Homo sapiens: one gene and its partners. The protein of the gene in region 1 interacts with the protein of each later gene in a pairwise test. Each region holds a gene or a part of one and is shown on either strand. Other genes may lie near its edges.

Region 1 (3,750 bases):
TGTGTGTGTGTGTGTGTGTGTGTGCGCACAAGCATGCCCAAATATTCCTCTTCTTATGAGGGCACCAGTTATATTGGATTAAAGGCCCACTCTGCTCTAGTACAACCTCATCTTAACTAATTACATCTGTAAAAAGTCCTATTTCCAAATAGAGTCACATTCTGAGTACTTCAAAGTATCTTTTTTAACAATGCCTAATTATGAAAGACAACTATTGTGGGAGTGAAAAATCTGATATTTAAGTGAATGGATGAGAATTTTTCACTAGGGAAACCATATTTACCCTAAAAATATCTCAATTACATATTTGTTTCATGCTAGTACCATATTGTGTAGACATTTCTAGCCAAAACATTTGTTTGATTTCTAATCAGCCAAAGGGGTCTGTTGCAGTGGTGTACCCAATTGTCATGTTTAAAGAAATTAGTAGATACTGGAGTGTTTTTAAAATATTTTGTCATTCAATCAGTGCACGTACTGAGATGGCAGAGCTATCCCACCATTCCTGGACTGCTGCTATGAGAGAGAGAAGTTAACTTTGTCTCAATAAAGGCCTGACATTTTAGGGTCTGTGCTCCAGCCTTTAACATATACATTACCAAATGCATGCTCCCTTCTAATTATGAGAGGAGTTAACCACACTGAATTGTCCTAACAGGGACGAGATAGTAGGACAAAGACTGAGAATGGCTCCACACACCTTTAATATCATGAACGAGGGCTAGTTGAGATATTTTTTAGTTTAATGATGTTTTTATTCTCTTGCCTTTTTTAGAGCTTTATTGAAAATGATCCTTTTAACGACACCTGATATCCCAATAGAGGAATAAGATTATTAGCTTTCACCATGAAGATGTTTCTAAACTCATTAAACAGCATATCAAAGGAAGTTTAAATAGTAGTTTATTTTTTAAAATCACCCTAAAATATTTTAACCTGTTTTCATTTCAATAAAATGGTTACGTTGTGCGGTATCTTTAAACTACAGCAGAAGCTCTTTGTGTTCAGAAATAGCTTCAAGAAGTCCAAAAACTCCTTTAAAGTTACATGCAACTTTTGGCATATTTGTGTATGTGGACATTTTTCTGGAAAAAGGATCCTGAGCCTTGATAGGATTCTGAAAAGAACTTGTGACCAAGTCCCCACATCCCTAACAACAAATTTGATAACAACAATTAGAACAGTTAAGAGCAGCTGAACAAAAGGAAATAATTACCTGGATATGTAAGCCATCATAGATTAAACTGAATATAGGCAAATGGATCTATCTCACAAGGAAAATATGGTTTCTAATACATAAAATGACATTCAGGACAACATTTGCATTTTGTGATATATACATTTTTGAGAACTGTATTAGTGCTTCATCAAAAAACATTTGTTTCAAATATATAATTTTTAAAGAGTCATACTTTGACATCGTATTTCTTAATTTTATTTACTTTACTGAATGAAAATTTTCATAAGCATCCATGAGAATTCCATTTATCCATTTTCACTTTTATAATGAAAGTAAAAGCAAGAATATAATTCAAGTTAGAGGACTGTTCTCTGAAAACACTTAAGAAATACACCAGTTTCCCAAAGTGAGGAAATTGTGACTACTTTGTGAAAAAGAAATTAAGTAGTATCTTTTAGAAAAGTCTAAATGATGTAAACCAGTGGTTCTCAAAGTGTGGTCTCTGGACCAGCAGCAACAGGGCAACTTGTTAGAAATGGAAATTCTTGTTCCAGTCCCATCCCAAATCTACTGAATCAGAAACTCTGGGGGGAGGGCTAGAGACTGGTGTTTTAACAAGCCTCTAAGTGATTTTAATGCTCTTTAAAGATTGGCATATAAGCAAACCAAGACATTGCTGGACACTTACCACTGCTCGTATAGACTGTGAATTTAATAGTTGCTACTATTTCATTATTATCCAGTGTGTCACACTCGAAAGCCAAGGGGTGACTTTCCTTGCGTACTTCTAGGATTGCTGAATCATTTACAAGTATAATGGATTGCTATTTAAAAAGAAAAAAATAACAAAGTATCAACATTTTTCATGTACACTTACCAGGAAACAATTTATTTCCCTTAAGGAAAGGAGGGTTACTGTCTCTCTTAGCCTAGTTGAGTAATTAATGATCTACATGGATTTTCAGTCACACAATCCAGACTTCAAATCCCAACCCTACCACTTCCTGCCTGTGTGACTGTGGACAAGTTAGTTACTTACTTGTAAAAATGGGTTTAATGATAGTGATTACCTCAGAGAATTGTTATATGGATGAAAAAAGGCTCTAGCACTCAGTGTCATGTCTGGCACTTAATAAACCCTTAATTAATGTTAGCCACTGCTATCATTATACAACTCCTATATAAGCCAATGAAAACCTTCCTTCCGAAATGGAATACTTTGTGTAAAATAGACGTTTTAAAGTTCTGATTATAGCTGGCCCTTAGACTTATGTAAAGTTTAGTCCTAGTAAATAATGAAAATTTTAAAATTCCAAAATAATAAAGTTGTATAATTCTTAACTTCGTTTTGGCAAACTGCTTTTAAAAAGAAAGTTTTCTGAAAGCCATCAGAACTGAGAAACAAATTTTATCACTCACTAGAAAGCACCAGGTTATATCCATTCATTACTCACTTGGTCTTGTCTTAGAAGTTTCCACATATATTTGAAACGATTTAAGGGAGATGTGTGAATACATGCCAATCTAACACTTTCAAGACTTTCTGAAATTGGTTTACCCCCTGAAAAAAAATTAAGCACATAAATACCATTGGGCATTATAAATTGCTTTATACACGAAATTACTTTTTTTTTTCCTGAGACAGGATCTGGTTCTGTCACCCAGGCTGGAGTAGAGTGGCATGATCTTGGCTCACTGCAATCTCTGCCTCCTGGGCTCAAGCCATCCTCCCACCTCAGCCTCTCAAGTGGCTGGGACTACATGCACATGCCACTGTGCCTGGCTAATTAAAACAAAATTTTGTAGAGATGGAGGTTTCACCATGTTGCCCAGCCTGGTCTCAAACTCCTGAGCTCAAGTGATCCTCCTGCCTCGGCCTCCCAAAGTGCTAAGATTACAGGTGTCACAATACTACTTTAAAAAGCAACCTCCAGTTTTAAAAATCAACTATATGCTGGAAGTTATCAAACATAATTAGGAGTTTGAGTGTAGAGGAACAGAAGACTGATAGGTGCAAAGATAAAGTCACCAAAAGAAGCAGGTGAGGAGACACCATGGCTCTCTGCTCCTTATGCAGAATAAGTTGTAATTGACCTACTGATCTGTTAGACTAAACTATGAGATCTATTAGTGGCTTCCAATGTACTGGTTAGGGACTCCCATTAGAGATACTGAAATTTCAGAACAGCATAATGTGATATGGAACAGCTGTCAAAGTTCCCATTTTAAAGTCTACCAATCTACTGACAAAATGACATGACCAAAGCATCAAAAGCATTTCGCCACAGGACAGCCTCAACTATAGACCCTATATACAGTAAGCCTCCAGTGTATTATAGAGAATATATGTTCAATTTTAGATGTCTCTGAAAAAATGTGAAGCAAAATCAGAAAGTTGCTCAGAACTATAACTGTTTGAAGAAGTGGAATTTAAAATTTTATGATTTCCTTTGAGTATGTCAACTGGTTGCCTCCTTCTACTCAGTGGCAACCTGAGGTGAAAAATATTTCCCCAGAGTAAACTCTTGCCCACAGTCTCCCTCCAATACATAATTCAACTCACAGCCACA
Region 2 (3,750 bases), on another chromosome or scaffold:
AAATAATAAGCCCCTCAAAGCCAAAACACAAAAATGGAATATCCCACCCACGTGCTGGATCTCAATATTTCCAGATTACTTCTGAGGTTGGCAGAGGCTTCGGCGGCCCTACGATGTCCAGCATTTAAAGGTGACTAGGGCATGGGCTGAGGGAGGCTCTGAGACCAGGCAGCCTCACTCACAAGCCCTCCAAAAGGCAATTTGCTTTACAGATCAACTAAAAACGGTGTTCTGAGTGTGGTGGTGGCGGGGGAAAAGACACTACTCTACTTAGTAAAATGAAGAGAATTTAGTTACAAAAAAGATATTTAAGAACCTCTATGGGCATGATCACAAATAAGCTGAGACACCCAGACTAGTTGTATAATTCAGCAAATTAAATATTGTTTTTTTCAGAGGGTGCATGGGGCTCCGCAAGACTGCATTAAGAGACAAACCCTTTAAGAAAAGACTGTCACTTGTGCCTCTTTTCCTGTTGACAGGCTGTTGTCTGAACAATGAATCCTGGAAGCACCTAGGAGAAGGCACCTAGGAGAAACGTCTTAGGGAGTAGTCCCGCGGGTCCGCCCCAGGACAGTAACGCTGTCAGTTTCCCCGCCCTTTGCACCTGTAGTGCAGACGGTACCAAATGCGATGGCTTTGAGACGTCCTCTAGACATCGGAGCCCATCATTTACCACAAAGAACACTGAAGTACTTACTTTAGCAGAACATTTTCCGAAGAAAAATTAACAGGGAGAGGAAATGAAGGACACTAACAAACAGACCCCATCTCTAGAGTCTGAGATCAAACCCAAGTCCGATGGAGCCCGGGCATCTGGTGGAGGAAAGCGGGCAGGCATAGCCCCAATCCTGGTCCTCAACAAGATATTTCTGTGAATGAATCCCTCTGCTCCCTGGAGGAGGGCACATTACATATCCCTTTCCTAAATCAGAACTGAAGCAATTTGCCCATCATTCGCACACCTCGACAGGGAAAGGCAGGATTCCAGTGTCTCATCAGACCCGGGAAGAGGGGAAGGGTCGCTGGCGCAGTTACCTACTGGGTTTCCGGGAGCTAGGGAAAACGCCCCTGGGAAACGCAAGTGTTCAGCGCCACATAAAACTTCCCCGGATTTAGGGCCACCCTAAGACGGGCGAAAAGACTCTCCAGCGCCTTAGCAGGTGCAAAGCCAGCTGTCAGTGTGCGCATGGCGAGTCCCCGTTCCCGAGAAGGGACGCAAATGACCCTAGAAAATCAGACAGGAGCAAAACAAACCCAAGAATGACCCTCCACACACCACAAAGGCAAAAGCAAACAGAAGGCACCTAGACACACTCTGCAAAGTGTAGAACTGTCTACACTTGCATGGAGGAATCCACCTTGCAGAGCGAGGGTAGACCTTCCCGGTTCCCAGTGTCTGGGACCGAGGCAGGTCAACACGGGGCCAAGGACATTGCACTCAGGGCCCCTCGCGGCTCCTCCTGCAGCCCGTGGAGTCACCCCAAGACTCGGAGAGCCGGGCTGCGATTGCTTCTCGGGACAGTAAGGACACCTCAAAAGGGATAGATTTGGGGGTGTTTCTCAGAAAGGAGCCACATCTCCGGGAGCCCAGATCTCGGGGGAGAGTCTGGGAGGCGGCTCGCCTCCAGGACCCGAGGCCGCCCCAGGCAAGGAGTGGGGCGCTCTCCGCGTAGGGCAAGTTCACCCCCAGAGCTCGGGACCCTGCAAGTTTCCCTCACTGACCTGCAGGTCAGGACACGCGACTTCCCCGGCAGGTCTCCTGCGCTAGCGGTGGGGCGGTGCTCCGGTCTGGACGATACGCGCCCGCGAAGCCGTCCTCGGGAATGTTGGGCGCAGCGGCGCGGCGCGCAGTCTGGGCGCACGGCGGACAGCAGGCGCAGCGGGAGTGGATCCGGGCTGCCGGCCCCGCACAGCCCGCGCGTCGTCCCTCCGCCCCTCCTGGCCGCACAACCAATGGCCGCGAGCGGGTCCCACTCCTCACCGCCCCCTAGTCTCGGCTCTAGCGGGCGCTTGGCTCTAGGACGGCGCCCAGCTCGGGCGAGGGAGGAGCTTGCGCCACCATTGGAAAATCTCGGAGGACGAGGAGGCGTTGCGCAGGGAGCCCATCTGGGGAAGGCAGGTGTAGTGGGTGAACTTTTTTGTGTGTCGGGGGGAGGAGGGGGGAGTGGGGAGGAGGGCAGTTTTTTTAGGGCTCAGGGGCCTTTCTCTGCAGATGAAAGCATCCACTTCTTGCCAACTTTCTCCTCCTCTTACATCTTTTATGAGTTCCTCGCAGCCCCCACCCAAAACAACTACTCTGGGTGCATCATCGCAAGCCCAGCTCTGACTGAGTTGCGTGGGGCATGGCCTCATCCTGTGATGAGCTTAACCACAGACAGCCCTTGCTCAGCCTTCGCCGCGTGCGCCTCTGAATCCTATACCAAATCATTAAATGAGTCGAATAGGATTGGAGTTTCTGTCATTGCCAGGGAGACAGTCAGTCATGAGTCCCTACTAGGGAACTGGCGTAGAGAGTCATATATCGTAACAGAACTCCGGAAAAGGAGGCTTTAACTGATCCGACCAACTTCAGTTACCAGTCAGTGCTGCTACCTTGACCAGAAGACTCTCTCTCTGTATTCCTGTTTTTCAGCTGGAAAATGAGAGACTTCGATCACTTGGTGGCTGCGGTCTGTTTCACTCTGACATTCAACAATATTGTTGCTCTGTGGCCTGTAAAGGGCTGAACTCCTGGGAAGTGTTGGTGTGGCTACCTGTTCCTTGAGCCCCTACTCCATCTGGTTCTGCTGTCTTCACCGTGAGACCTATTAGTGGCCAGAAAAGCAAATCATGCACAATACAGAATCAGGCCACCCAAGTCTCAGTGACCACCAACACATGCACGTATACTGCCACCCACCAGGGCCCGGCTCCTAGGAGCCTGCTACTTCCACCCATGTTCAATTGTTCTCCACGTAGAGATAGGCAGGGGCACCTGGCTTAACTCTGAAGCTCCGTGGTACATAAGTAAAGGCTCTCTGTCTCTCCCCTTCCTTCTCTAGGGCAATTGTGGGTGGGTGTGAATCTCTCTTATGTGGATCCTTCTGTGCCTGATGTAAAATGCAGGAGGATGGAATGAGCTGTGTTGTCAAGAGGGCAGATTCAGAGAACCACTTCCCTCCGGGCACACTTGGATTGGCTTCCTGAATTTCACCTGTTCATGTGCCATTCTCATGAGTTACCTTACATCCATCTACAGTCTGCTCCATTATGCACTTAGTAAATTTTACCTTAGATTTTTACTTGGCTTCATCGTAAGCAATAATATCTATGAAATTATTGGTTTGTGAGATACCAGTTGTATTTAATATTTTAATGCACAATGAAATGAAGGCATAAGTCTTCCATGCTAAAATCATTCTGAATATCACTGGTTGTTCTCACAACTCACTTTTTGAAACACTAAGGTGTATGGGGGGGCAGTTAGAACTGTTGACCTTCAAAACAGTGGTCCTCAAAATTTCTTTGTGCATAAGATTCCTAGGCCCCAACCCTATTGTCTGGTTCATTCATACTCTACATGTTTGTTTGTTTGTTTTGTCTCTCCCCTTCCTTCTCCAGGGCAATTGTGGGTGGGTGTGAATCTTTTCTATGTGGATCCTTCTGTGCCTGATGTGATCCTTCTGTGAGGAGTCTTGCTCTGTCGCCCAGGCTGGAGTGCAGTGGTATGATCTCGGCTCACTGTAATCTCCACCTCCCTGGTTCAAG
Region 3 (3,750 bases), on another chromosome or scaffold:
AACAGACTCAAAGCCTCAAATAACAAAGAGAAGGGATAAACAGAAGCACTTCAGAGGAAGAGGAGAGCACTGTTCCGGATCACGAAGAGGCTCTGGGAACACCCAGGATGGAGGAGCATGCAGGCCTCCTGCTGGCTCTGTGGCCCTGTGGACCCGTGGCTCCCTTTCTCTCTTTGGCCCTCAAATTGTCAATGGAGGGGGCCGCAGCCCATGGTCTCTGAGGCATGCTTCTGACTGGCCTCTGGGCTCCTGACCCAGGTCCCCCTGAAACCAGAATGACCCCTGGATCTTCCCTACAGAGAGAGCGCCTGCAGATGGCGGGGAAAAGGGGCCAAGGCCCAGCGTGGAGAGAAGGAGGACTTTGCCTTTGGAGGAGCATATGCGGAGCAGCTACCCAGCACCAGGCCCCTGCCCTCCCCAGACATCGCTTACTTTAACGGACCACCACAACTCCATGAAGCAAACCTCCCATTTAGAGTGAGGACCCTGAGGCACCACAGTCATTCAGGTCACCCCTGGGGAGCATCTTGTCACTGCCCGCAGCCCCCTTCAATCTGGACCTGGTGCCTCCCTCAAAAAGGGAGGAGTGTGGGAGAGAGACCACAGGGGCCAGCACCACACAGTTTCAAGCGGAAAGCCCTTCCTGCTGTTTCCTGGCTGGGGGTCTATTACCTCCCTCTGCCGTGGTCTCCTTACTGTTAGGAGGCCTGCTGCCTGCAACAGTGGCCCACATGCTTAAATTAATGCACTGGTCACAGGGTGCCCATTGCGGCCCCAGTAGGATGGAGGAGGCTCCCCTCAATCCTACTGTCTTGTCATTGTGGTAGAAGAATCTGAGCTCAGGACTTACTTCTCTGCCACTGTCCTAGACCCCATTTGGTCTTGGGACCCACAGGTCGTCCAGGAAGCAGGTCTGTGTGTGCTCGGATCCACGTGGCTCTGACCCTCCCAGCACAGAGAGCCTGAGGGTCCCAGTGTGCACCACCACAGGTCAAGCAGTGCCCACCCTTGACCCTCAGATGGCAGACCACTCCCCCATCTCTGGCCAGAGCTGCAGGCCATACCAGAGGCCTACGCCCTGGGCGGGCACACAGGGCTGCCATTGTCTGCTCAGCGCCTGGCACCCTCTCGTTTGCATAGCCACGTGAAGAATGCAAGAGCGGGCTGGGGACTTGTCCCTTCAGAGGGGGGTTGGGGCTGTGGGGGAGGAAGCCAGCAGGGGTCTGCAGCAGGACCCTGCCTTCCCCCAGTGCAGTCCAGGAAGGGTGGGTGGGCTGTTGGGGACGGAGGGGGCGGCGGGGGGCTGGCAGGAGTGGAAGCAGGGTTGTGACATTCCTTCTGCACCCACGCTGCAGTGGGGCCCACTTGAACGTGAGGGGATTGCTAATGAGGTGGAAGAGAGTTAAACATTCCCCTACTCCTGAAGACCAAGAGAGACTGGGAGAGAGAAGAGGGAGGTGGGGGTGCTCGGAGCGGGCAGCCTGAACCCCGGGAATGTGCAGAGGCCACTGCTCCGCGCCAGGCTGCTCTAGAGTTGGGGGCCAGGGCCCAGTGTTCCAGTCCCAGCAGGAGCTACTAAGCCAGCCAGCAAGGGGATTAAGGGGCTGAGCAATCCGCCTTCCTTCAGGCTGATGCCAGAAGGTTGGGGCTGTCTCCCCAGCTCCCCACCAGGCCCCTTGCTGGCCGGCAGCCAGCGCTGGCCCAGCCTCGATAGGGCCCCTTTTCTGTCCCCCTCAGATCTCAAAAAGACCCCACAGTACATATTTCCTGGTCTGGCCTCCCTGATTTTTGGCACACACAGCTCCCAGGTACCCATGACCCCTCTTCCCAACACCCCACCGCTAGCTCAGCCTCCCCACATCCAGCTTCAGAGCCCCTGCCAAAAAGTTATCCTTGACATCTAACTCTAGTTTTACCCGCTGCAAACTGGCATTCCTTTCCCTTCTGTCCTAAAGTCAAAGGGCAGAAAACCCCAAGGGTTAGATCAGCCTTGCAAGAGCAAAGTCCATCCTCCCAGGGCTGGTGTTTGGGTTAGGGATTATCCGAATTTTAGGACACCCGAATCAGGTTCCTAAAGGGGTTTCCCTGTGGGGAAAGGCCCAGAGGGCAGCTGGGTCATTCCTCTCAGCCCCTCCCTTCCCTATCCCTGCGGAACGGGGCGGGGCAGGGACACCACCTGGGCCATGGGCCGGCCCTCCGCCCCCAGGGGGCTGGGCATGAGCTTTGCTGGGGACCCTGCTCTGGCTTAGGCGGCTGCTGTGGGCGGGCCCTGGCCTTTTCCAGCCCCTGGGCCTCCCCCTGCATTCTGGAGTCCAGAGCCACTGCCTTTGCTCCAGCCGCTGCCGCCGCACCACCTCTCCTTCTCTGCCTCTGACCCTCCTTCTCGCTGCTCCCCCTGCCCAGCTGCTCCTCCCACCTGGCCATGACCAAAGCCCCTGCTGGCACCCTGGCCCAGCTCTGAGTCCTGGGACCCTCGGTCCTCTCTCCTGGGCCATGGCCAACTCAGGCCTCCAGCTCCTGGGCTACTTCTTGGCCCTGGGTGGCTGGGTGGGCATCATTGCTAGCACAGCCCTGCCACAGTGGAAGCAGTCTTCCTACGCAGGCGACGCCATCATCACTGCCGTGGGCCTCTATGAAGGGCTCTGGATGTCCTGCGCCTCCCAGAGCACTGGGCAAGTGCAGTGCAAGCTCTACGACTCGCTGCTCGCCCTGGACGGTAGGCCCCAGGCCGGCGGGGTGGGAGATGGGAGGTGGGAACAGCAGGGGAGTCTGGAGCAAGTTTTCCTCACAGTCTGCTATCTGCGCTGGGCTCCAACCTCCAGCCTCCGCTCTACAATTCCCCCACTACTGCCCTGTGCCCATTGACGGTCCAGGCCAGCCTGCTGCCCTGTGGGAGGGGAGGGCTCTAGGGTCTGGCGGCTGTGGGTCCAGATTCCTGCTCTGTCACTATAACTTTGAACTAGTCACCAAACCTCTTCCCATTGTGATGTTCTCATCTCTAAAGGGGAATACTAATACCTGTGGCACTCTGAAAGACTCAGTTAAGACCCTTCATCCACTTCTCCCCACAGTCAGTAGACAGACACACACTGTATGATGCACACCTGCTCCCTAGTCCTGCTCCCAGGCCTGTGTGCCAGCATATGGGTGCATGCACATGCATGCAAACACGCATGCACACGCACACACGTGCACATGCATGCACAGACAGGTGTGTCTGCATGCAGTCCCTCTCCTTCTGGGGTGTGGAGATGAGCCTGACAGGCACCGCCGAAGTTCTAACTCTGGGGTGGAGGTGATCCACCTGCAATCTGCCCAGGAGCCCCCAGGGACAATCTGCTCCCCATGGGAGCTGGGAGCAGAGCGGCCTTCAACCAGCCCCATTGTGCCAGTTCAGGCAGGTCAGTTCAGGCAGGTCATCTAGCCTCGCTGAGGGACCCAGGTCTCCTGAGCACCCCCCAGGGCCCAGGATGGACCCATGCACCCGTGAAGAGGCAAGCTTCCAGCTGCCATGGGCAGAGGGGAAAGTGACTGTTGTCTGAATGGCTGCTGGGGAGGGGTTGCTGCGGGGCTCAGGCTGAGTTGAGCTGGGCCTCAGATACCCCCAGCTCTTCCACCTACCAAACCTGAGGGGACCCTGGAGCTGCCCTCAGCTGCTTGGGAGGATGGGCCAAGCCCAAGAGGGAGTCCCCAGGCCAGAAAGCAACAGCAGAGTGAATCATACTACCGGAAAAGCCTGCAAGGGCGAGT

Evidence for each region.
Region 2: the proteins of SPACA1 (region 1) and SERTM1 interact in binary tests that used the Homo sapiens proteins (3 or more experiments, as listed by UniProt).
Region 3: the proteins of SPACA1 (region 1) and CLDN19 interact in binary tests that used the Homo sapiens proteins (3 or more experiments, as listed by UniProt).

What each region holds. Positions count from the first base shown.
Region 1 is NC_000006.12:88,057,707-88,061,456, reverse strand, and holds part of SPACA1 (sperm acrosome membrane-associated protein 1 precursor), read right to left. Parts: coding exon 3,744-3,750; intron 2,742-3,743; coding exon 2,635-2,741; intron 2,005-2,634; coding exon 1,869-2,004; intron 1-1,868. UniProt on the Homo sapiens protein: Plays a role in acrosome formation and establishment of normal sperm morphology during spermatogenesis. Important for male fertility.
Region 2 is NC_000013.11:36,672,160-36,675,909, reverse strand, and holds the start of SERTM1 (serine-rich and transmembrane domain-containing protein 1), read right to left. Parts: upstream 1,891-3,750; 5' UTR 1,726-1,890; intron 566-1,725; exon of another isoform or gene 483-565; intron 1-482.
Region 3 is NC_000001.11:42,738,807-42,742,556, reverse strand, and holds the start of CLDN19 (claudin-19), read left to right. Parts: upstream 1-2,320; 5' UTR 2,321-2,493; coding exon 2,494-2,716; intron 2,717-3,750. UniProt on the Homo sapiens protein: Forms paracellular channels: coassembles with CLDN16 into tight junction strands with cation-selective channels through the strands, conveying epithelial permeability in a process known as paracellular tight junction permeability.